Homo sapiens: one gene and its partners. The protein of the gene in region 3 purifies or fractionates together with the protein of the main gene of each other region. This does not show direct contact. Each region holds a gene or a part of one and is shown on either strand. Other genes may lie near its edges.

Region 1 (3,752 bases), on a different chromosome or scaffold from region 3:
CTGACTGGTTCACAGGTCAGTGCCATTGGGGGAAACGTACTGAGTCAGTTTTTTCTGATTGGTTTGATCTTCTATGAATGATGTATGATCACAGGGCCTAGATGTCCTCAGTGGGAAGTTTATATAATTGTAAAGATAAGGAAGTTTGGAGGAACAGCTCCAGAGATTACGGGAAAAACCGCGAGGATTCATTTTACGAAGACTTATACTTAAGGTGTCTATGAGAGCCTGTTGATGAAGAACCTGAGTTTTGCTTTAAAACAGATCCAAGTTCAATTCCCAGCCCTATCACTTACTGGTTGGGTGGTCTTGGGCAAGATTGTGGGGTTTCTCACCCGTATACAACACCTACACCGCCAGTTATGTGGGATTAATTGGCATCATGCATATTAAATGCCTGGCACAGTGTGCCCTTGGTAAGCGGTTAAGAAATGTAGTTACTGCTGCCACCATGATGATGATAGTAGTGACTCTCCCTTTTTATCTGTTTTCCAACCCAGGGCCATCCAGGAGAGCCTCCTCACCAGCACAGAAGGCCTGTGCCCCAGCGCCCTGAGCGAGACAAGCCGTTTTGATAATGACTTGCAGCTAGCCATGGAGCTCTCTGCCAAAGAGCTGGAGGAATGGGAGCTCCGGCTCCAGGAGGAAGAGGCTGAGCTCCAGCAAGTCTTACAGCTGTCACTCACTGACAAATAGACCTTTCAGCCTGTGAGCCTCTGCACAAAGCAGAGGCTGTGGGCTGTCACAGATGCTGTGTCAACCAGGGCCCTAGGGCTAAGGGCCTGCACCTTGCGTGCATGCAGCAGGCAACAACTGCCCCTTCTTTATGCAGAGGTGCAGAACCAGGGACTCCTGGGCCCATCCAGGCTGCTCCCTGGGGTGGAGAAGGGACCAGGGATTGCAGGCCCCATCTCCAGGCTAAGGGGAGGAGAGCATCATCACTTTCCATTAGCTGTATTGGCTTGCAGGTCACATTTTTACTACCAGCTTTAGACAAAACCCCAATCCCCGCAGGTTTGTAGATAAATTTTTATCAAGGAGTGATAACAAGACAAGTTATTGCAGAGTCAGGGTGCTTTTATATATAAGAGCAGCAGCCGCCTTTGTAAAGTGTGATCTATGAGAATTGGAGACACTTCTTTACTGTTCACCAAAGAAATGGGTAATCTGTGCTGATCTCCTTATTTTTACCTTTTTACAGGGTTTCTAGGACATTGTCATTATTCTTCCTCCATCTATCTGATTCCATTCCTTCCACACCCAGCTAAAGTTAGAGGAGATACATATAGAATCTATTTTAGATTATTGTTAACTATTTGCATCAAATTAAGATACACAAATGGCCATGGATGTTGCCTTAGCCTTAAACATTACTAATAGTTTCACATCACCTCACTGCACGCATCGAAGGATCTGATTTGAATTTGTAAAGGCAATTCTTTTGAGAGCAGGATTCTCCAGGCTAAATCAAAGGCAGCTAATCCTGTCCCTGAAGGAGCAGCTAGGGGAACCTGAGGCTTGTTCTTGAAGTGGGCAAGCTGGCCAAAATATTGGAACACACAGAACCAAACCAGGTGTGTTCTACACCTGCATGAGTGAAGGATTTCCACGTAGACACCTAGGAAGAGCCCGCATGCCCTAGACTCACTCCAGAGGAAGGATTGATTTGCAACCAGAAAGGGAGCTGAAAACCACGGAGCTCCATGGCTCTTCATTCAAAAGGGAAAATAATGATTCCACGTTGCTTTTTAGAGTTCAAATCAACATCTTTCTGGATAAATCTATTTTTTAACAATCTTTTTATTATTTGTAAAAGATATAAAAACAACTCCCATCAGTAGCAATACAAGGTTATACATTTTAACCAGATTTTCTCAGGCCTTTTTTGGATACCTTTAGTAGTTAACTCTCTTTTGTCAAACCCTCTTGTATATAACCATCGCACAACATACAGAACCCTGGGGAATACAGCCAAGGGCACTGCTCACTGTGGCCCGTGTATTCATTCCCACAGGCTGCACTGAAATAACCTGGTAAACAACACCCTCCTCCATTTTGCGTCTATTTCTTCTATTGTGCTTCTTTGGGGATAGGAAGAGAAACATAACTACTGTTCCAGGTAACGTCTGTATCATACAGTTAGTGTTGCCAGTGAAACGTTCCCAGATACAAAGAATTGTGCTTTTAATTCCATTTCACAATCTGTTTTGTTTTTTTTTTTTGTCATTGTCTGACCAAAATTCCTTCTGCACATGAGGCCAGTATAGGCAACGTCACATTTGTTTGTTTCAAATATGCAGTGTGGTATTTTGTTTACTTTGCATTTACCGTGAGCAAAGATACTTCTTGGAATGGCTGCAGTGAGGCCGTGTCATTGGCTCACAAAAGTGACTCATAGGTAATTTCTGTGTTTGCATTCCACTGCTCTGCTCCCTAAGGTCCTTGACTTTCTCCCCAGGAATTCACTTAAAAAGGGACTGAGCATTGTGTCAACCTGTTGCAGTGTTTTTCATATATGTGTTCACTCTAAAAATGCAAATAAAGACTGCTTCCTTAGAGGGTGCTCATACAAAATTCCAGTCTTTGAGTCTTTTTCCTTTTCAGTTTTTTCTAGTCACTGGATGTACCCACACTTCCTGTTACGTATGTCAGTAGAACATTAGAATGCCTCACTTCGCTCAGTTCATCACTGCAAAGGTGGCATGCTCCTCCCAGCCTTCCTGCCCAGGTTAACAAGCCCCATGCTGCTTGTTTCAAATGGCAACTAAAAGCAAGCCAGTGTTGGGCTGTTCTGACACCTCTGTGGTCCTCCTGGAGGGGAACTGGCTCTTGTGGGGTAAGGGAAGCCCAGCCAACATCAAAGCTCTGCATCAATGCTATCCCTTGAAGCCAACTGCTTTGTGAGGCTGTTCCTAGAAGTCCAGATGATAAGGCTTCCAAACTCTTCCTATATCTAAATAAGCGGGTATTAAAAACAACAAAGGCAGTGGCCAGTAGAAATGTATGGGTTCCAGAAATGAGGCTGTATTTCTGGGAAGATGTAAAGGAGCTGCTTTGCTTTTAGGGGAAAGTAGATATCAATACTTTGAAGCCACAAGGACACTATGAAGAAAACCATTACTCTTTCAGGTCAAGAGGTGCAATGACTATGGATTATTTAAAAACTGAAAAGCTAAGCTTGAGTGGCCCAATATCAGCAGGAAGTGGTTTTTTTTTTTTGTTTGTTTGTTTTCCTGAGACGGAGTTTTGCTCTTGTTGCCCAGGCTGGAGTGCAATGGCGCGATCTTGGCTCACTGCAACCTCTGCCTCCCGGGTTCAAACGATTCTCCTGCCTCAGCCTCCCGAGTAGCTGGGATTACAGGCGTGTGCCACCATGCCTGGCTTATTTTTGTATTTTTAGTAGAGACGGGGTTTCACCATGTTGGCCAGGCTGGTCTCGAACTCCTGACCTCAGGTGATCCACCCGCCTCGGCCTCCCAAAGTGCTGAGACTACAGGCATGAGCCACCGCACTCGGCCAGAAACTTTAATTGAGCAACTTCTGCACGTTAGACACTGCTAGGAACTAAGTTCCTAAGGCACTCTGCTCTATAAACAAGCTTGTCACACTACATAAACGTGGCATGTCAAGGGATTGAAAGTCTGCTCTAAATAATGACAGGAAAGGGAAACTGCCATAACTGCCAGCTTGGTCGCAGTCTCCTGCTGACCACAAATGACATCAAGGAAGATGAACTGGATGTGGAGATTTCA
Region 2 (3,640 bases), on a different chromosome or scaffold from region 3:
CCCTTTGAAGACTGGCATGTTCTCCTCTTAGCCTGGCCTTGGAATTCTCGCCCCAACATTTACCAAGCTCACCTTGGCTCCAGGGGTTGGGCAGGAGAGGTCTCCAATTCGTGTTGCTTCTCTCTTATTTTCTTTGCCCACCTAAGTTCTAATATTGGGAATGGTAACATATGCCAGGCCCTTTGGGATCAGCCAGCTATTCAGCCTTTTTCTTCAGGGGAAACCAAGGCCCCAAAAGGTGAAGGGACTTCTTGCCTTAGATCACACAGTGAGTTAGAGATAGGGTCAGGACTCCAACCCAGTTCTCCTGATTCCTACTCCAGAATTCCTTTCAGTCTATGTAGAAGCCCCCATTATGATCCCAGTGAGGAGGCAGACCTTACCGAGGGGCCATGGCCTGCTCGTGACAGAGGAGCAGTGCCCCTGGGGGTGGGGCTTGTTCTTGGCCTGGGCTGGACTAGGCCATTTTGTTCCTAGTGGGAGGGAAGAAAATGAAAAGGTTCACTGGTAGATGGGAGCTGCTTGCTTCTCCCGACTGCAGTTTCTCTCCCTGTTGGCTGAAGCAGAATGGGAGTTTCTGGGTAATGCTAGTAGACCTTTCTCTCCTCCTGACTTCTCTGACTTCTCTGGCCTCTTCCTGCAGCAACATCCAATGGAAGCCTGGAGGGGCTGGAAAACCGGGAGGGCGGTGTGTGCCGCACACGCACCATGAAGATCATCATGAAGGTTGGGCAAGGTGAGTGCCTAGTCTGAGGGTCCCCTCACCCCACCCTGTTTGACCTTTGGAACAGATGTTCCTGGCTGGGTGCATGTGTATTAGGAGTGGGGGAGCAGGCGTAGGGTTACAGTATCCAGGCCATTCTTGGCCCACCCTTGATGACTGAGGGCACCTATGCTGGCCGGGTCCCTGCCTCTCACCTGTTCTGTCTCCATTCTTAGATCCCAATGCTGTGACGCCTGAGCAGCTGACTACCAGCAGGCCCAGCAAGGAGGCAGACAACACTGTCAAGATGGCCACACAGGCCCCTGGTAGTCGGGGCTCCCTGGGTGACTCTGATGGCAAGCATGGTAAGTGTATGTGTTTCCCAGAGGTCAGGAGCCATTGCTCTGTCACCTTGTTAGGCCCTGTCCCTGAAGAAATGCAAGCTGGGCCTGGCCTGAAATCTGCTGTGTGTCCCTGGGACCCCTGGCTGACTGTTCCTTCCCCTTTCCCTTCCTCAGAGACTGTGAACCAGGAAGAGAAGAGTGGCCCAGGTGCAAGTGGGGGCAGCAGCGGGGACCCTGATGGCTTCTTCAACTCCAAGGTGGCATTGTTCGCGGCTGTCGGTGCCGGTTGCGTCATCTTCCTGCTCATCATCATCTTCCTGACGGTCCTACTACTGAAGCTACGCAAGCGGCACCGCAAGCACACACAGCAGCGGGCGGCTGCCCTCTCGCTCAGTACCCTGGCCAGTCCCAAGGGGGGCAGTGGCACAGCGGGCACCGAGCCCAGCGACATCATCATTCCCTTACGGACTACAGAGAACAACTACTGCCCCCACTATGAGAAGGTGAGTGGGGACTACGGGCACCCTGTCTACATCGTCCAAGAGATGCCGCCCCAGAGCCCGGCGAACATCTACTACAAGGTCTGAGTGCCCGGCACGGCCTCAGGCCCCCGAGGGACAGTCGGCCTGGACCGGACCTCTCCTTTCGCCCCCACACCCCCTCCCCTTGCCAGCTGTGCCCACCTTTGTATTTAGTTTTGTAGTTTCTTGGCTTTTATAATCCCCCTTTTTCCCTGCCCCCTGGGCTTCGGAGGGGGGTGCTTGTGCCCCTAACCCCCATGCTCTTGTGCCTTCCCCCTCTGGCCAGGCCTCTGGGCTCCGTGGGGGCGCCCCTTCTTGGAAGGCAGGGCTGGACACTGATGGACAGCAGGCAGGGAGACAGTCCCCTGGCCCTGCCCCTCCCTCGCCCCCCTTGCCACCTTCCCAGGACTGCTTGTCCGCTATCATCACTGTTTTTAATGCTTTTGTGTTCATTTTTTAGCTGTCAACTCATTTTCATCTGTTTTTTGAAGAAAAATGGAAAAATGTAAAAGGCAGCCCCTCCCCAGGCTTTGTGAGCCTGGCCCAAGCCAGTACAAGAGGGCCTGGGGCACGATGTGGTCAGCCAGGAAGCATAGGATGCCATTTCTTTTATAGATTCCTTGGTATTTCTGGTGGGGTAAGGGGCAGGCCAGGGCTGTTCACGCCCATGAGGGAAGAGGAAAGTGCCACTGGGCAAGGTGTCCCACCCTCCCCTCCTGACCCTCCTACGAGGCTTATCCTGGCAATGGGGTAGTCACTGCCACCCTTCCACACACACACACACACACACACACACAAAAAAAAATCCCTTCCTTGTGGGATTCTTGGGCATCTCCTGCCTCCCTCACTCTCACGGTAATTAATGTCTTAATTGGCTGTTGCCTGGGGAACAGGAGAGCTGCTGCAGGCAGATGACCTCATGGGGGGTGGAGGGAGGTGAGGTGCCCAGGTGGCTATTTGCCCTGCAGAGCTGGGAGTTTCACCCCCACCCCCCACCCTGTTCTCTCCTTACCTTTGGCATCCTTTGGCCTGGTGGGGAAACAGAGGCCCAGGGTGGAGACCTAAGCGGGTATAAGACCAGGTGGCCTGCTCCTTTTCTGGGCCCTAGCACAGGTGGGTAACCCCCACCCAACCCAGCTCCTGCTGCTGTCCCAGTCTTGGGCTGGGGCCTGGAAAGAGGAAGAGGCTGCCTGGGGCTGGGCCAGCCCGCTGTGCACTTTGACCCCAGTTCCTTGCCAGCACGGCTGCTAACAGACTGCCACTTGAGTGCGCCTTGCAGGCACTCCCAGAGCAGCCATGGAAGGAGCTGGCCCTCACACCATCCACCTCCACACTGCCTCCTGGCCAGCTGCCCACCCCAGTGCCAGGTGGGAGAGGGAGCAGAACAGCCAGCCCCTTCCAGGTGGCAGTCGGAAGGGTTTTTGTTTTTGTTTCTGTTGCCATTTGTGTAAATACTAGTCTTTTTGGAAAAAAAATAATGTAAAGATGTTTTGTATAAACTCTGAATTATTTTCTTGTTGCTTTTTTCTTAGAAAAAAATGAGAACTAAAAAAAAAAAATTAACCACATGGAGAAATGGGTGTAAAATGGTGTCGTGATGTTGGGAAATGGAGAGTGAGAGTTGTGTGCGTGCGTGTGTGGTGGGGGTGTGTGTGTGTGCGCTTTCCTGTGCTCAAACCACTGGTGACTGGGGCAGGTACGGGCAGATGATGGCTATCCTAGTGGAGCAAGATGTTTTAATGCCCTATGACCCTCCTGCCACTCCCCTCACCCCAGGTTTTTCTGCTCTCTTGTTCTGCTGTCATGGAGCCTGAGACCATTTCCCCTGTTCATCCTGTCACCTCTGTGGCATAGGCCACGGGCATCTGCCCAGTCTGGCACAGGCCCAGTTAGAGAGGGTTAATGGAGGAGGGGATGTTCCCATGGGGACCTGGGTGTGTCCACAAAGTACTGCCACCACCTAGCTGGGGCTAGATCTGGGACCTGCTGGCAGGCCCAGCCCTGCCCTGCCTCAGGACGCCTGGAGGTGGATAGAAATAACTTCCCAAGATCTGAACTTCAGCTGCAGCCTA
Region 3 (7,918 bases):
CCCGGCACTTAGGAAGGGGTGGGCACCGTGACCCTGGCACTAAATAAGGAAGGGATGGGTGCTGTGACCCTGGCACTTAGTGAGGAAGGGGTGGGCACTGTGACCCCGGCACTTAGTGAGGAAGGGGTGGGCACTGTGACCCCGGCACTTAGTGAGGAAGGGGTGGGCACTGTGACCCTGGCACTTAGTGAGGAAGGGGTGGGCACTGTGACCCCGGCACTTAGTAAGGAAGGGGTGGGCACTGTGACCCTGGCACTTAGTAAGGAAGGGGTGGGTGCTGGGGCCCTGGCACTTAGGAAAGGATGGGTGCTGGGGCCCGGCAGAGCCGGCAGGCACTGTGACCCCAGCACTTAGGAAGGGGTGGGTGCTGTGACCCCGGCACTTAGGAAGGGGTGGGCACTGTGACCCTGGCACTAAATAAGGAAGGGATGGGTGCTGTGACCCTGGCACTTAGTGAGGAAGGGGTGGGCACTGTGACCCCGGCACTTAGTGAGGAAGGGGTGGGCACTGTGACCCCGGCACTTAGTGAGGAAGGGGGGTGGGCGCTGTGACCCCGGCACTTAGGAAGGGGTGGGCGCTGTGACCCTGGCTCTTAGTGAGCAAGGGGTGGGCGCTGTGACCCCAGCACTTAGGAAGGGGTGGGCACTGTGACCCCGGCACTTAGTGACAATGTTGGAGCCTCACCTCCCAGATCCATAAAGCAGGGATCATGAAAACCAACCGAAGGCAGCAGGGCCTACGGGGCACTCAGGTAAGGGAGGCGTCCACCTGGGCAGGGAGACATCCCTCGCACTGGCTGTCCCCACACCGCCCCATCCCCAGCACGCTCTGGTCTGTGACGTCCACCTGATGTGGCACCCGTCAGCAGGTGCTGGACACAGTGGCTCTCCCTTGTCTCCCCAGATGTCAAGAATATGAACACGTGGCTGCTGTTCCTCCCCCTGTTCCCGGTGCAGGTGCAGACCCTGATAGTCGTGATCATCGGGATGCTCGTGCTCCTGCTGGACTTTCTTGGCTTGGTGCACCTGGGCCAGCTGCTCATCTTCCACATCTACCTGAGTATGTCCCCCACCCTAAGCCCCCGATCCCCCCAAGGCTGGGTGGTCAGAGCTGCTCATCTTACACCTCTACTTGAGTATGTCCCTAACCCTGAGCCCCCCACGCCTGGGGCCAGAGTCTTTGTCCCCCGTGTGCGCATGTGTTCAGGGTCAGCCTCTCCCAGAAGTGAGATCATGGACAAAAAGGGCAAATCACAGGAAGAAATTAAATCCATGAGGACCCAGCAGGCCCAGCAAGAAGCTGAACTCACGCCGAGACCTGCAGGAGTGGTGCCAGGTGCTTGAAGTAACAAGTTTAAAATGTTCAGAGACAATGGAATGGAATCTATTAGGCAAGAACAGGACATTATGAAATAAGGACAGGTGGACTTCCAAAAACACAAGTAGAAATTCTAACAATGAAATATATTACAGGCAGGTCACCCACTAACCAAACAACTGAAGCGAGAGCTGGTGGTCTTGCTTGGTCTCACAGTGGGCACAGCGGTAGGCGGTCAGTCATGTTGCTGAACGACGGAGGGTAAACTCCCCAGCCCCAAGGAAACCTGTGTTGGAAGTAACAACAACCTCCCTGCTCCTGGCACCAGCCGTTTTGGTCATGGTGGGCCAGCTGCAAAGCGTCTTCCATTCTCTGGGCAGTGGTGGCCCCGAGGCTGTGGCCTCTCAGGGGGTTTCTGTGGACACGGGCAGCAGAGTGTGTCCAGGCCAGCCCCCAAGAATGCCCTGCTCCTGACAGCTTGGCCAACCCCTGGTCAGGGCAGAGGGAGTTGGGTGGGTCAGGCTCTGGGCTCACCTCCATCTCCAGAGCATCCCCTGCCTGCAGTTGTGGCAAGAACGCCCAGCTCAGAATGAACACACCCCACCAAGAGCCTCCTTGTTCATAACCACAGGTTACCCTACAAACCACTGTCCCCACACAACCCTGGGGATGTTTTAAAACACACACCTCTAACGCATATCTTACAGTCACTGTTGTCTTGCCTGAGGGTTGAATTTTTTTTAATGAAAGTGCAATGAAAATCACTGGATTAAATCCTACGGACACAGAGCTGAATGTGCTGTTTTCAGAGTTTTAATTTTGGATGTCAAGGCCAGTGCCTGTATAGAATAGGTGCTTAGGATATGTTTACTGAATGGAATGGAACTAAAGCCTCAGGTGTAACTTCATGGAGACACGCGTCTGCCTTGTAGAATGTTACAGGCTGCCTGTTCCTGAAGCTGAAACCCTTAAGAGTGAGAAGTCATTTGGGCCTCCTTCAAAACTCTCCACCCTTCTTAGAATCAGGAATATTTTTAAAAGTACTTTCTAGAATTATCTAGCAATCTCTCTTATATTTAAATATTTTTGGGTTTACCACCTATGAAGGCTTTTCTGGAGTTTCACTCCACCCAGAATTCATCATCTCTCCTTATCAGGAAATCTCTCACCCTCAGATGCTTAGAGTCAGGGTGAGTCCCCCCACAACAGGAGAATCGGCCGAGGTTGGGCCGAGGCCACATGGTCTCATCCACATGTGCCGCAGATTAAGGGATGCTCAAACTGCCCAGTAATACAAAGTCTGCACTTGTCATTTTTTTCCAACTTTGTGTACAAAATGTTTCCCTGGGTTAAAATAGTCAATGCCCACTGTGTGCTGAGCACGTGGGGTGCTGCAGGCCCTTGTGCTGCAGAGAAGCTGGCCCTTGCCTCAGGCGGCAGAGCAGGGAAGTGCAGTGGGCCTGAAGCCATGCGGGGCTGGGAGGGATGACCTGGTCTGTCCTCTGAGCCAGGCACTGCACTTGGAATGGGCTTCTTGAACGCAAAGCCCAGACCAAGTGTGGCAGAAACATGAAAGGACAGGCAGTCGGCTGCTGTGGGCGGGAGGCAGGACGCCCAGGCCTGTCCCCACCCCCGTGACCCAGAGCCTCCCTGGGCAGTGACTCCAGGATGTCCAGGAGCTTCTTCTCTACCTCACAGGACTGGAGAGGCTGTGGTGAGACGCATCCTGTGAAGGCTGGGCTGGCCACAGGCAGCTCCCCAGGGCGCCCACCGCCATCTGCTCCTCACTGCAAATAGGCCTCTGTGGGCGGCCGCCCCAGTCTCCAGAAATAGTCACAAGACATCGGCTCTCACGGTGTTGGTGTTTAGGGAAAGAAGCATGGAGAGTTTGGCCCCTCCATGGAAGCTCGTGGCTGAAATAGGTGCAGAGCCCATTTTATTAACGTTTGTTAAGACGGCTCTTTTAGATAAACGGGTGTATCAGGTTTTGCTTTGCTTCCCTGGGCTGCTTTGCTGCCTGCAGGACAGGCCAGGTGGGTAGGGCTCTGGCCAGCCTGCTGAGCTGTCCTGTGGGCACTGTGCAGGGCTGCAGGGATGGTGACCTGTCTCAGCCCCATCAGAGGCTGTGCTGAGTGGCACTCACAGCACTCGTGTTCACCTCCTGGGCCTGGGGCTCTCAGCACGCTCAGGAGTGTGTGGTCCCAGGACCCGCTAGCCAGCACCTCGGGGTGGCCGCCCCACTGCGTGGTCCTCCGACTGTGGGGTCTCTGTGCATCCCCCAAGGTGCGCCCCACCCAGTGTCCAGATGTGGGGAACCCCACAGGCCATCTGGACCCTCAGACAGAGCGGCCCCTCCTGAGCTGGTCTCTTACCCCTGCCAGCGATCCCAGGGGATCTGGAGCAACCTCTCAAGCTGCATGGTATAGGGGACCCAGGTCTGTGAGAGACAGCTCATCTCTGACACCACTAACAATGCAGCTCAATGAGGCCGTGGCAGGCGGCAGGGGCGTGGGTCAGCACTGTTCCCCAGGTCGCAGCTGCAGACCCCTCCTGCTGACCATCAGCTAGCTGCAGAACTGGGCCCACAAGGCACCTGCACTCATCCTGACCTCACAGGGCCTGCATGGTGGGCGGAGCAGTTCTCCCTGTGCAGGGGCCGGATCAGTGGCACTGGCCACTCTGCTGAGCTGTCCTGTGGGCGCCGTGCAAAGCCGCAGGGCTGGTATCTTGTCCTGTTCCTCCTTTTCCCTTTCCAGAGGCCAAGAAGATGACCACCTTTGAGTATCTCATTAATAACCGCAAAGAAGAGAGTTCAAAACATCAAGCAGTGAGGAAAGATCCATACGTGCAAATGGACAAAGGAGTTCTCCAGGTACCACCTGTCTCTCTGCTCCATTTCTCCAGGCCTGGGACAATGTCTAAGGTCACTCGGTGGTTGGGACCTCTCAGCCATGCTCCTTTACTTCAGGGCCGATGCAGCCCATGGACTCTGCTGTGTGTGTGTCTGTGTGTGAGGCTCTGTGCATGGGTGTGTCTATGTGTCTTTGTGAACATAAACACCAGTCATGCACCACGGACTTCCTAGTGCAAAGATAGGAAAGGAACTGAGTCTCCTGGACATTTCTATACTGCACGATACATCTTCCAAAGTTGAAATGTGCTTTTTGCATCTTTTTTTTTGAGACAGAGTCTCGCTCTGTTGCCCAGGGTGGAGTGAAGTGGTGAAATCTCAGCTCATTGTAGCCTCCACCTCCTGGGTTCAAACAGTTTGCCTACCTCAGCCTCCCAAGTAGCTGGGATCACAGATGTATGCCACTACGCCCGACTAATTTTTGTATTTTTAGTAGAGATGTGGTTTTAACACGCCAGGCTGGTCTCAAACTTCTGGCCTCAGGTGATCCGCCCGCCTTGGCCTCCGAAAGTGCTGGGATTACAAGCATGAGTCACTGTACCTGGCCTGAAACATGATTTTTAACTTAAGGAAGTTAGTTCCCTTTCCGGTTAAGTGACATGAATTATTATAACTAACTCAAGAAGACATAGAAAGTCTAAATAGACATAGAACAGCCAAGAGACTAAACTACTAATTTAAAATCTCCCAGTGAAGAAAAATCCCAGGCCCTGTAGTCTTCATGCATGAATTCCAGCAAAGATTTAAAGAAAAAATACAATACAACCTACACACAGACTCTTTCAGAAAACAGAGAAGGAAGCAACACTTCCCAACTCATTCAGCAATGCCACTATCAACCTGACACCAAACCAGATATTCATAAGCCAGTACATTCAGGAAACACAGGCAGAGATCACTGATAAGACCTTGGGAAACCAAATCGAGCAGCACGGGGCAGGAATGTGCACTGTGGCCAAGTGATATCACTCCAGGGGTAAGCAGTGGCTTAAGGCCTAGGAATCAATTACTACAGCTCAGCACGTTAGTCCAATAGAGAACGGTAACCACGCAATCATGCCAATCAATGCAGAAAAGGGTTTGTTAACAGCAAGTTCCCATTCATGATTTTTAACAAATCTCAGTGACCTAGGAATGATAGGAAAGCACCCTGTGTACCTGACGTGACATTTACTGGTGAAAGGCTTGTGACCCTCTCTTGGAGGCTGGGCACAGGTGATGACGCCCTTTCCTCCTACTTCTGATATCACAGTCACATTCTGGCCAGCCCAGCATAGCAGGGAAAATGAAGGCACAGAGAATACAAAATAAAACTGTGTTTATTTGCAGACAATGAAACCTAAAAAGTATGTTTTAAGACCTAGTTAAGATAATTAAATCACTTAACAAGGATGTGGGGCACATATTAAAATACACGCTCGCACATCTCTATCCACCAGCAATGAAAAATCCGGGTTATATTTTTAAAACTTCCTTTCATAGTCTAATAAAAAAAGAATAAATTTGACAAACCTTATGCAAATATGTACACTGAAAGCTACACACCATGACTGAGAGAAGTCAGAGACGCTCTATTAAGTGAAAAGGTGTACAGCATTCATAGATTGGAAAAAAATACTATTAAAAGGGCAATTTTCCCCAAAACTTATCTACAGATTTACCACAATCCCTGCTGAACCCCAGCAGGCTTCTGTTTTAGCAGAAATGACAAGGTGGTCCTAAAATGTATATGCAAATTCAAAAGACCTAGGCTACTGTACTAGCCAAATGATTTTGAGAAAAAATAAAATTGGAGAACTTACACAACCAGACTTTAAATGTTACTATAAAGCTGTAGCACTAAAGACAGGTGGCGCTGACAGAGAGAGAGACATAAAGCTACAGTAATAAAAACAGTGTGGCACCGACAGAGACAGATATAGAGAAATGGACCAGAAGAAAGGTCCAAAGTTAAAGCTTTCATTTATGGTCAATTGACTTTAAATAATGGTACTAAAATCATTAAATAGGGAGAAATTATAGTTCAACAAGTGGTACTAGAACAATTGGATATCCACATGGAAAAGAAAAAAGAATGATTGAGTTCTTCATACCTGTACAAAGATTACCCAGGATCACTTCATTCGCCACGGAAGAATTAGCCCCAAATCCATCTGACACCTAAACTTAAAAGCTGAACATAGAACACTTCTAGAAACAAGCATAGAATGAAATCTCTGTGATCTTTAGTGAGACAAAGCTTGTCTTTGATCTGACACCAAAATCACTGCCTATTAAAGAAAAAAATCATAGTTTGGACTTTACCAAAATTGAAAATATTTGCTCTTCAAAAGTCACCATTAAGAAAATAAAAATACAGGCACACATGAGAGATACTGCAGGTTTGGTTTTAGAAAGCCACAATAAAGTAAACATGTCAGTAAAACAAGTCACATGAATTTCTGGTTTCCCAGTGCTTATAAAAGTTACGTTTACATGACGTGTGCAACAGCATTATGTCTAAAAACTATGTGTCTGAATTAAAAGTGCTTTATTGCTAAAAGCTGCTTACACAGACAATTGAAGTGAGCACACACTGCGGGGAAAATGGCGCCGACATACTTGCTTGACCAGGGTCACCACAAACCCTCAATTTGTGAAAAAACACAGTATCTGTGAAGTGCAGTAAAGCAATGCACAATAAAGCCAGGTGTTCATTCCTGTGCAAGCCACAGGCAAACAAAATATTTTCAAGTCTTAGACTGATGTCCAGAATACACAAAGACACAAAGAGCTTTCAAAGTGCAATTGTAAAAAAACAACAAACAAAAACATAAACAAACAGAAAACTCAGTTTTTCAAATGGGCAAGAGGGCTGGACACAATGGGAAGCACCTATAATCTCAGTGCTTTGGGAGGCCAAGCAAGAGGATTGCTTGAGGCCAGGAGTTCAAGACCAGCCTGAGCATCTCTACAAAAATAAATAAAAATACATACATACATATAAAAAATGGGCAAAAGATTTGAACAAACTCCTTACCAAGGTAGATGTAGATGTATAGATATATGGATGCCACATAAGCACATGGAAAAAAATGCTCAACATCATTCTACATCAGGCAGCTGCAAATAAAAACCACAATCAGATACTACCACACACCCAGGAGAATGCTTGTCATCAACAAGACAGACACCACCGAGGGTTGGTGAAGTTGTAGAGAAATTGCAAGTCTCCTGCGTTTTTTTGCTAGTGGGAGTTAAATGAGGGTGTAAAGTGCCACCACACTGGAAAGCAGTTTGGCATTTCTTTAAAAGATAAATGTCTAATACATGACCAGAATCCCACTCCCAGTTTCTCACCAGAGAGAAATGAAAACACGTGCACACGTAAGTGGTTCTGAGATCTGAACTCAGGACCCAAGAGAACTCCAGGTACCATTCCTCAAAACCCAGGAATAATAGACGTCACTTTTATGTAAGAATCAGCTGCATGTCAACAACTTCTTTTTTCATGTGACGAATTTTCTTTTGCCCCACAGCAAGGAGCTGGCGCCCTGGGCTCATCTGCACAGGGGTAAGTTGCAAGCTTCCTGCAGTAGCTTGGTCCTTCTGAAGAATAGCTGTATTCTTTTCTTAACTCAAATGACTTTGGAAAATAATTCACCTATGATGAGACATTTTGAAATCATGGGATGATGCAGTAGAAGATAA
Region 4 (8,459 bases), on a different chromosome or scaffold from region 3:
GGCATGAGCCATCGTGCCCGGCCTGAATTCACCTTTCTTATGGGGAACAATCTGAAGTAAAGTTGAGCTCTACCTAGTTAGGGCTAAATGGAACTGTTCCATTTGATTTACTATATATAAAAACTAAAATCAGGTTTCTGCAACTTAACTGGAAGTGCATCAAAAATAAGATAGGGGCTGGGTATGGTGGCTCACACCTATAATCCTAGCACTTGTGGAGGCCAAGATGGGAGAGTTGCCTGAGGCCAAGAGTTCAAGACCAGCCTGGGCAACAGAGAGACCCTCATCTCTATTTAAAAAACTCTGAAATTTAGCTGGGAGTGGTCATACCCACCTGTGGTCCCAGCTACTTGGGAAGCTTGCTTGAGCCCAGGAGGTCAAGGCTGCAGTGAGCTGTGATTGTGCCACCGCATTCCAGCCTGGACCATAGAGCAATACCCTATCTCTTAAAATAAAGGATTGATACGAAATCACCTTTGCAAAATTATGGCAGTAAGAAAAACCTGACATGGTTGACTCCATGTTGCTTCCTTTTCTTTTTCTTTTTTTTCTCTCAGCGTGTTGCTCTTGTTGCCCAGGCTGGAGTGCAATGGCACGATCTCGGCTCACCACAACTTCTGCCTCCCAGGTTCAAGCTATTCTCCTGCCTCAGTCTCCTGAGTAGCTGGGATTACAGGCATGCGCCACCACACCTGGCTAATTTTGTATTTTTAGTAGAGACAGGGTTTCTCCATGTTGGTCAGGCTGGTCTCGAACTCCTGCTCAGGTGATCTGCCTGCCTCGGCCTCCCAAAATGCTGGGATTACAGGAGTGAACCACCGTGCCCAGCTCTATCTTGCTTCTAACCTCCAACCTGGGGATAGGCGAAGGTAACTTTGGGAGGAATTTATAGTTCAACCTTAAAGCAAGGATGACATTAGCCCTCTCCAAAACTAAACCGCCTTTGTAAAACTAATGAAAAGCCACAAGTCTAGGATTTTTATAGGAGGGGCCTGAATTCTGCTAAGGTGTAGGTGTAGTTAAATGATAACCAGTCATTGCTCTGGAAGTCACAAGATTTGTAACTTCCTCAGTTACTCCTATAGATAACATCACTATTGTAGAACCTAAGACTTGCCTTTTGAGATGTTTCTTTTCTTTCTTTCTTTCTTTCTTTCTTTTTTTTTTTTTTTTTTTTTTGAGACAGAGTCTCGTTCTGTTGCCCAGGCTAGAGTGCAGCGGCATGATCTCGGCTCACTGCAAGCTCCGCCTCCTGGGTTCATGCTATTCTCCTGCCTCAGCCCCCAGAGTAGCTGGGACTACAGGTGCCCGCCACCACACCCGGCTAATTTTTTGTATATTTAGTAGAGGCGGGGTTTCACCGTGTTAGCTAGGAAGGTCTCGATCTCCTGATCTCGTGATCCACCTGCCTCAGCCTCCCAAAGTGCTGGGATTACAGGCGTGAGCCACCGCGCCCGGCCTTGAGGTGTTTCTTTTCAGACTTTTGCATTTCTGCTGACTCCACCCAGAGGCTGACTCAGCGCTTGAGGACTCCTCCTATGATTGCATCCCCAACCAATCAACATTTCCCATTCCCTAGCACCCTGCCTACCAAACTATCCTTGAAAAACCCTGACCTCTAAGCCTTTGGGGAGACTGATTTGAGTAACAGCTCCATCTTCTGCGTGGCCTTGTGCATCGCCAGCCTTGCGTCAGTGAAACTCTTTACTGCAATGCCAAGGCCTCAGTGAATTGATTTTGTCTGCGCAGTGGGCAAGAAGAACCCTTGGGCAATTACAGATAGATGAATAAAAGGATAGATTTTTTTAGATAGACATGAGATACTAAGCAAAACATTAATAGTTGAATCTAGGGTATATGAGTGTTCACTCTATGGTTCTTTCAACTTTTCTGTTATGTTTTCATATTAAATGTTGTAGGAGGCTGGGCATGGTGGGTCATACCTGTAATCCCGGGATTACAGCGGGTGGATCGATTGGGCCCAGGAGTTCGAGACCAGCCTGGGCAACATGGCAAAAACCTCGTCTCTACTAAAAATACAAAAATAAACCTGGCGCGATGGCGCAAGCCTGTAGTCCCAGCTACTCAAGAGGTTGAGGCACGGGAATCGCTGGAACCTGAGAGGTGGAGGTTGCAGTGAGCCAAGATTGTGCCACTGTGCTCCAGCCTGGGTGACAGAGACTTGGTCTCAAAAAAAAAAAAAAAAGGGCCAGGTGAGGTGGCTCACGCCCGTAATCCCAGCACTTTGAGAGGCTGAGGCGGGTGGATCCCACCTGAGATCAGGAGTTTGAGACAGCCTGGCCAACATGGCGAAACTCTGTCTCTACTAAAAATGCAAAAAAAAATTAGCCAGGCATGGTGGCGCACACCTATAATCCCAGCTACTCAGGAGGCTGAGGTGGGAGAATCACTTGAACCTGGGAGGGGGAGGTTGCTGTGAGCCAACACCTCACCACTGCACTCCAGCCTGGACAACAGAATGAGACTGTGTCTCAAAAAAAAAAAATGTTGTGGGAGAAGCCCAAAAATCATGTCCACTTCATTATATTCCATGGGGGGCATTCTGTAGCAGATTTACCAGGGCCCCATAAACCCCAGCTTCCCCAGAGGCTCCACAGGATTCTCAGTGGGTTCTCTTAGGGCAGTGGAGGATTGTTTGCCATGCTTCAAGGCACAAAGGTACTTAGCTAGGTGCTTGTCAGTTTTGGAGCCTCTTATTTTTTGTGGGGGAGTGTCCAGACTTCACTGAGGGTCAGTCCTCTGCAAACACAGCTTTGATGGAGTGGTTGGGTGGGAAGAGGTGGTGAGTGAGGAGAATGACAGCAGTTCCCAAGGCAGTCTGGCTAAGTCCTGCCATGGAGGTGGTTAAAAGACAGGCTCCTGACCCTCTCTGGAGAGAAGACTTTGGTACAGTGGGCCCAGGGCTCAGGAGGACTCCTTCATGCCCAAGGTTTCTGAGGGGACAAATGATGGTATTTCAAGGGATCAGACCTGGAGAGAGTGATGTCAGGATAGGTAAGGGGTGTAGGTAAGTTCCCCTGAATGCTCTCTATTGTTGCTTCTCTCTCATTTAATACAACAAACAGGATGGGCACGGTGGCTCATGCCTGTAATCCTAGCAGTTTGGGAGGCCAACATGGGAAGGCTGCTTGAGCCCAGGAGTTTGAGACCAGCCTGGGCAACACAGCAAAAGACCCCATCTTGATAAAAATAACAAAAACAAAAATGGCATGGTGGCGCTCATCTGTAGTCCTACCTTCTTGGGAGGATCACTTGAGCCCAGGAGGTTGAGGCTGCAGTGAGCTATGACCACACCACTGCACTCCAGCCTGGGTAAAGGAGTGAGACCTCAAATGTAAAAATAAAAATAACCTAAAAAATTCTTTCTTTCTTTTTTTTTTTCTTTTTTTTTTTGAGACGGAGTCTCGCTCTGTCGCCCAAGCTGGAGTGCAGTGGCATGATCTCGGCTCACTGCAAGCTCTGCCCCCCGGGTTCATGCCATTCTCCTGCTTCAGCCTCCCGAGTAGCTGGGACTACAGGCACCTGCCACCACGCCCGGCTAATTTTTTTTTTGTTTGTTTTGTATTTTTAGTAGAGATGGGGTTCCACCGTGTTAGCCAGGATGGTTTCGATCTCCTGACCTCATGATCTGCCCGTGTTGGCCTCCCAAAGTGCTGGGATTACAGGCGTGAGCCACCGCGCCCAGCGAATACTTTCTTTATAGGATCAAAATTCCCATATTAAGCCAAAAGACAATGCTGAAAATGTCATAACCCTGAAAGTCACTTTGGGCCAAGGCCCACTGTCCCCATTGTTACTTTCATTGTGACAATAGTGTGGTGGGCAAGGAGGGAGGCCAGAGTCCGGTGGGAACTGGGTTTTAGGAGGAGGTATCTGAAGAATGTGTAGTGGGTCGGGGGCTGGTGCGGTCAGAAGGGCCACCTCTAATTTCTGCCTTGCATTGGTGACTAGATCTGCACTTTCTGGAACTCCCAGAGAAGTTTGCTGGTGCCTTTGAGGGCAGGTACAGGGCCTGCCTTATCCAGGTAGCCCTGGGGTGGGTGCGGGTGTCTCGGGCAGTAGGCAGGGGCTGAGGGGAGGCTTACCTCTGACACAAGACCTGGGTACAGCAAGGGCATGCAGTAGCATGATCAAAGTCCCCCCAGAGTGGTCCGGGCAGCGTCTCTAGTTGGGCCAGAGCTGGGCAGGTGGGGACCTGTGTTTCCCTCGAGGGGAGGCAGCCTCCCCTTCCCCTTCTGTGAGGCCCTGTAACAAGACCTACCTCGGATTTTCAGGAGGGCCAAATGCGAGGACATGTACAATACCAGCTCCGCAACTGACACCTAGTAAACAGTGAACGTAGCTGTTGCTATTATAACAAATACCTGTTCCCTGTGGAAAATGGTTAAATGTCAACTTATGCTTTTAAATGTCTATAGGGAAACTAGTTTTATGGACATTATTTATTCTTCTCATCTGCATTTGCAGTGTATCTCGGCCCAGCTGCTTCTAATTTTTTGCCATTATAAAACAGGGAACATGAGCATCTTGTGCAGGGTGGGTTTTTTGTTTTTTGTCTCACTGTGGCCTCGACCTCCCGGGCTCAGGTGATCCTCCTACCTCAGCCTCCTGAGTAGCTGGGACCACAGGTGCGCGCCACCACAGCCGGCTAATTAATTTTACTTGTGGAGACGGAGGTCTCCTACGTTGCCCAAGTTGGTCTCTAACTCCTCGGCTCAAGCGATCTTCGCGCCTTGGACTCCCACAGTGTTGGGATTACAACCGCGAGCCACCGTGCCCGGCTTTCTGCAAGTTCTTGATGACCGATGAGAGCCGGTGGGCCCAAACCCGGCGGGCCCTAACCCGGCTTCACGCTCCGCCCGGCCCGGCCCGGCCCGGCCGTCCATACTTCCCTCCGGTGTCCACCAGAGGGCGAACGGGAGACGCGAATGTGGTTCGACTACGCATGCGCACGCCGCTGGGCGCACGTGCGGAGGGCGGCGGGGCGGGAGGGTAAAGGTAGGAGGTGAGAGGTGAAGGGGCGGGCACCCGGCGGCCAGGAGAGAGAGGGAGGGCGCCACGCACCGGACTGCGGGCCGAGAGCGCGCACGCCGCGCTCCGCCCCTGCTGCCGCCCCCGTCGCCGCCGCCGCCGCCGCCGCAGCTTGGGAGGTGCTGCCACCACAGGTACCGTCACGCGGGTGCTCAGGGCGCCTGCCCGCGGGCCCCAGCTCGACCCCAGCCGCGTGGAGCTGGGAGTTCCGGAATGGGGGCCGCTAGGTTCGGGGGTGCGTGGGCATGGCGCTGTCCAGCAGCCGTGCGGGCCGGCCCTGGAGACCGCAGGCCGGCAAGGAGGCAGGGCCGCGCGTCCCCACCCCCAACCCGGCCGTGTCCCTGCACCGGCCGGCCCCTGGAGCTCCGCGTCCCCACCAGACCTCCGCGGGCCCCTGGTGTGACGGGGGGAGATGCGCGGCGTCGCATCCCCTGGCCTAGTTGCTCCGGGAAGCTGTTGTAGAACCTGCTTTGGTGCTGTTTGGGTTTTCCGGAGTGCGGGGGAGAGCAGGTTCTCCACTTTGCCTCTTTTGGAAGATCTTATTGAGAGACAACGCTAGTTGCTTTGCTGGTTTTGCTTGGTTTCTAGTTTTCCGTATTGCTTAAACCTCAACTTTGCTCACTAATGTTGCTTCTGTTTACTTCTGAGTGGGTTTATGACCTCAGTATTTAACCGGCTTATAATGTCACGATAGCGTTAGTTGCAGGGAGCCCTGGCTCCGGACTGTTTGAATCACAGAAAGTTGTGCAGATGGGAATGCGGAGGGGGGGGCAGTGAGTCGCTGTGGGGGCTCTGGCAGGGGTCAGCCCCTGGTTCGGGTCACTCACTGCTCCACCTTGTATGGCGACAGTCGGAGCTAGGTGAATAAACTCTTTCTGGGGATTTTGTAATACTTATCGTGAAGCGGCCATAGAAAAGGTTTAATGTTAGCGTTGCGTGTGTTTCTTTTATTTGGCCAAAAATTTGTGGAGTTTGGTTATGCCGTGTCTTTATTGGTTTGCTGTCAGGTCAGGATATTGAGCAAAAGACTGACGCTTTTATTAGGGAGTCAGGGTCGAGGGTGTCTAGTTAGTGCTGTATCCATTTTAGGTGTTCCTCAGTGATGCCTAAAGACTTGTTTTTTGTTTGTTTGTTTGGAGACAGGGTCTCACTCTGTCTCCCAGGCTGGAGTGCAGTGGCGCGATCTCGGCTCACTGCAGCCTTGATTTCCTGGGCTCAGGTGATCCTCCCACCTCAGCCTCCCCAGTAGCTGGGACAGCAGGTGTGTGCCACCACGCCCGGCTAATTTTTGTATTTTTTTGTAGAGATGGGGGTCTTGCTGTGTTGCCCAGGCTGGTCTTTAACTCCTGGGCTCAAGCATTATACAAGCCTTGGCCTCCCAAAGTGTTGGTATTACAGGCGTGAACCACCGTGCCCGGCCAAGACCTGTATCTTTTAAAATGTGTGTTAATATAGTTTACATTTTAGGTGTTTTACACATTTGCAGTATTCCCACTGAGCACATGATGTAAAAAACACTATATAAATATATTTAACACTGTATAAATATATTTCCATATTTATTCTTTTGGTCATAAATTGAAATGGAAAGAATTAGGCTTTTTAAATTTATTATGAACTGATCTGATGTTTGAATGCTCTCTCTTTTCTTTCTTTCTTTTTTTTTTTGAGATGGAGTCTCGCTCTGTCGCCCAGGCTGGAGTGCAGTGGCGCCATCTCGGCTCACTGCACCCTCCGCCTGCCGGGTTCAAGCGATTCTCCTGCCTCAGCCTCCCAAGTAGCTGGGACTACAGGCGCCCGCCACCATGCCCGGCTACTTTTTTGTATTTTTAGTAGAGACGGGGTTTCACCGTGTTAGCCAGGATCGTCTCTATCTCCTGACCTCATGATCCGTCCGCTTCGGCCTCCCAAAGTGCTGGGATTACAGGCGTGAGCCACCGCGCCTGGCTTGAATGCTCTCTCTTTTCTTTTGCTGTTGCGGCAAAAACGCCCCCTCTCTAGAGATCTCCGTGGACTTTATAATCACTGGTTTGGGGCCCTTCCCCCGTTCCCTCAGTCACTGTCATTAGGTGGGTAAAAAGTTTACTACAAGTTTATTACTAGAAAAATGGAGGCATATGCGATTCAGGAATTAAATAAACTAAAAAAGGAAAGAAAAAGTGTGCCTGTGGGCTTCACTGCAGGTATGTATATTAACATTTGGTGGTAGACTTTAGGGATGTTTTCTCTCTCAGAATCTAGCCATGCATGTGAATGTGCCTCAGGGATCCTGGAATGACAGGTTCATGTGCTGTTTGCTTACTCTCACCATTGGTGGTTGCCAGTGTTTTACCGGCTCTGACAGGTACTTCATATACAGTTTGTGTCATCACCCCCGTTGAACAGATGAGAGGACTCCTCATAGAGAAGCTGGGTTCTTACAAGGTCACCCAGCTTGTCAAGGGTGGATCATCCTTCAAACCAGGTCTGCCACACCTCTGCCACCTGAGCTCCTTCCGTTAGAACTTGCTACCTTACTGAGTTGGCTAAAGAAACAAGGTTCAGGTGTCGTCTTTTGCCACTCAGAGTAATAATTCTGGGTGATATCGAGCACTTGTGCTGTTTAGGCAGTGTCCTAGGTACTGTAATATTAGCTTATCTCACTTAGTTTTCATAATAACCAGGTGAGATAACACTGTTATCACCCCCTTTACGGAGAGTTTTAGAAAAGTTATTTGACTGGCCCTGGGTCACCTAGCGAATTTGAGACGGAGTGTGTTGTGTGCAAACTGAGATTTGGCTGACAAAAGAGTCCATCCTTTTATGCTGTTCTTGTACCTGCTTCCACAGTCTGTTTTTTTTTTTTTTTTTTTGAGATGGAGTTTCGCTCTTCTTGCCCAGGCTGGAGTGCAATGGCGTGATCTCAGCTCACTGCAACCTCCGCCTCCCAGGTTCAAGCGATTCTCCTGCCTCAGCCTCCTGAGTAGCTGGGATTACAGGCATGCACTACCACGCCTGGCTAATTTTGTATTTTTAGTAGAGGCGAGGTTTCTCCCTATTGGTCAGGCTGGTCTCAGACTCCCGATCTCAGGTGATCCGCCCGCCTCGGCCTCCCAAAGTGCTGGGATTACAGGCGTGAGCCACTGCACGCAGCCCACAGTCTTTTCTGTTGCTCATTGGCAGGTAAGGGTAGTGGAAGAAGGTGGTAGGGGTGGTGGGAGGAAGCCAGCGTCACTGACTCTAGTGTGGGGATGGTGGAACTCAGCAAGAAGGTGACAGCAATTTGACCACTGCCATTTGACAGTTTCTGCTTAAGCAGTCAAGGGCACTAACCTAGAATGGTTGCAGGGATGCTAAATCATAAGGAAGCTTTGCAGTGGGGTCCAAAGTTGGTATGTAAGCATAAAGATGCACGTGGATCTCAGGAA

The links.
Region 1: the proteins of ZDHHC11 (region 3) and ANKRD13A purify together in Homo sapiens (affinity purification with mass spectrometry; 2 studies listed by BioGRID and IntAct, with this or other methods). This does not show direct contact.
Region 2: the proteins of ZDHHC11 (region 3) and EFNB1 purify together in Homo sapiens (co-immunoprecipitation; 3 studies listed by BioGRID and IntAct, with this or other methods). This does not show direct contact.
Region 4: the proteins of ZDHHC11 (region 3) and SCAP purify together in Homo sapiens (co-immunoprecipitation; 2 studies listed by BioGRID and IntAct, with this or other methods). This does not show direct contact.

What each region holds. Positions count from the first base shown.
Region 1 is NC_000012.12:110,036,859-110,040,610, forward strand, and holds the end of ANKRD13A (ankyrin repeat domain-containing protein 13A), read left to right. Parts: intron 1-500; coding exon 501-696; 3' UTR 697-2,905; downstream 2,906-3,752. UniProt on the Homo sapiens protein: Ubiquitin-binding protein that specifically recognizes and binds 'Lys-63'-linked ubiquitin. Does not bind 'Lys-48'-linked ubiquitin.
Region 2 is NC_000023.11:68,839,021-68,842,660, forward strand, and holds the end of EFNB1 (ephrin-B1 precursor), read left to right. Parts: intron 1-643; coding exon 644-736; intron 737-939; coding exon 940-1,068; intron 1,069-1,221; coding exon 1,222-1,634; 3' UTR 1,635-3,140; downstream 3,141-3,640. UniProt on the Homo sapiens protein: Cell surface transmembrane ligand for Eph receptors, a family of receptor tyrosine kinases which are crucial for migration, repulsion and adhesion during neuronal, vascular and epithelial development.
Region 3 is NC_000005.10:833,636-841,553, reverse strand, and holds part of ZDHHC11 (palmitoyltransferase ZDHHC11), read left to right. Parts: exon of another isoform or gene 1-709; coding exon of another isoform or gene 710-751; intron 752-903; coding exon 904-1,059; coding exon of another isoform or gene 1,060-1,135; exon of another isoform or gene 1,136-1,206; coding exon of another isoform or gene 1,207-1,335; exon of another isoform or gene 1,336-1,472; coding exon of another isoform or gene 1,473-1,582; exon of another isoform or gene 1,583-2,112; intron 2,113-3,015; coding exon of another isoform or gene 3,016-3,049; exon of another isoform or gene 3,050-4,073; coding exon 4,074-4,189; intron 4,190-7,746; coding exon 7,747-7,781; intron 7,782-7,918. UniProt on the Homo sapiens protein: Endoplasmic reticulum-localized palmitoyltransferase that could catalyze the addition of palmitate onto various protein substrates and be involved in a variety of cellular processes.
Region 4 is NC_000003.12:47,472,526-47,480,984, reverse strand, and holds the start of SCAP (sterol regulatory element-binding protein cleavage-activating protein), read left to right. Parts: upstream 1-5,043; 5' UTR 5,044-5,186; exon of another isoform or gene 5,187-5,562; intron 5,563-8,459. UniProt on the Homo sapiens protein: Escort protein required for cholesterol as well as lipid homeostasis.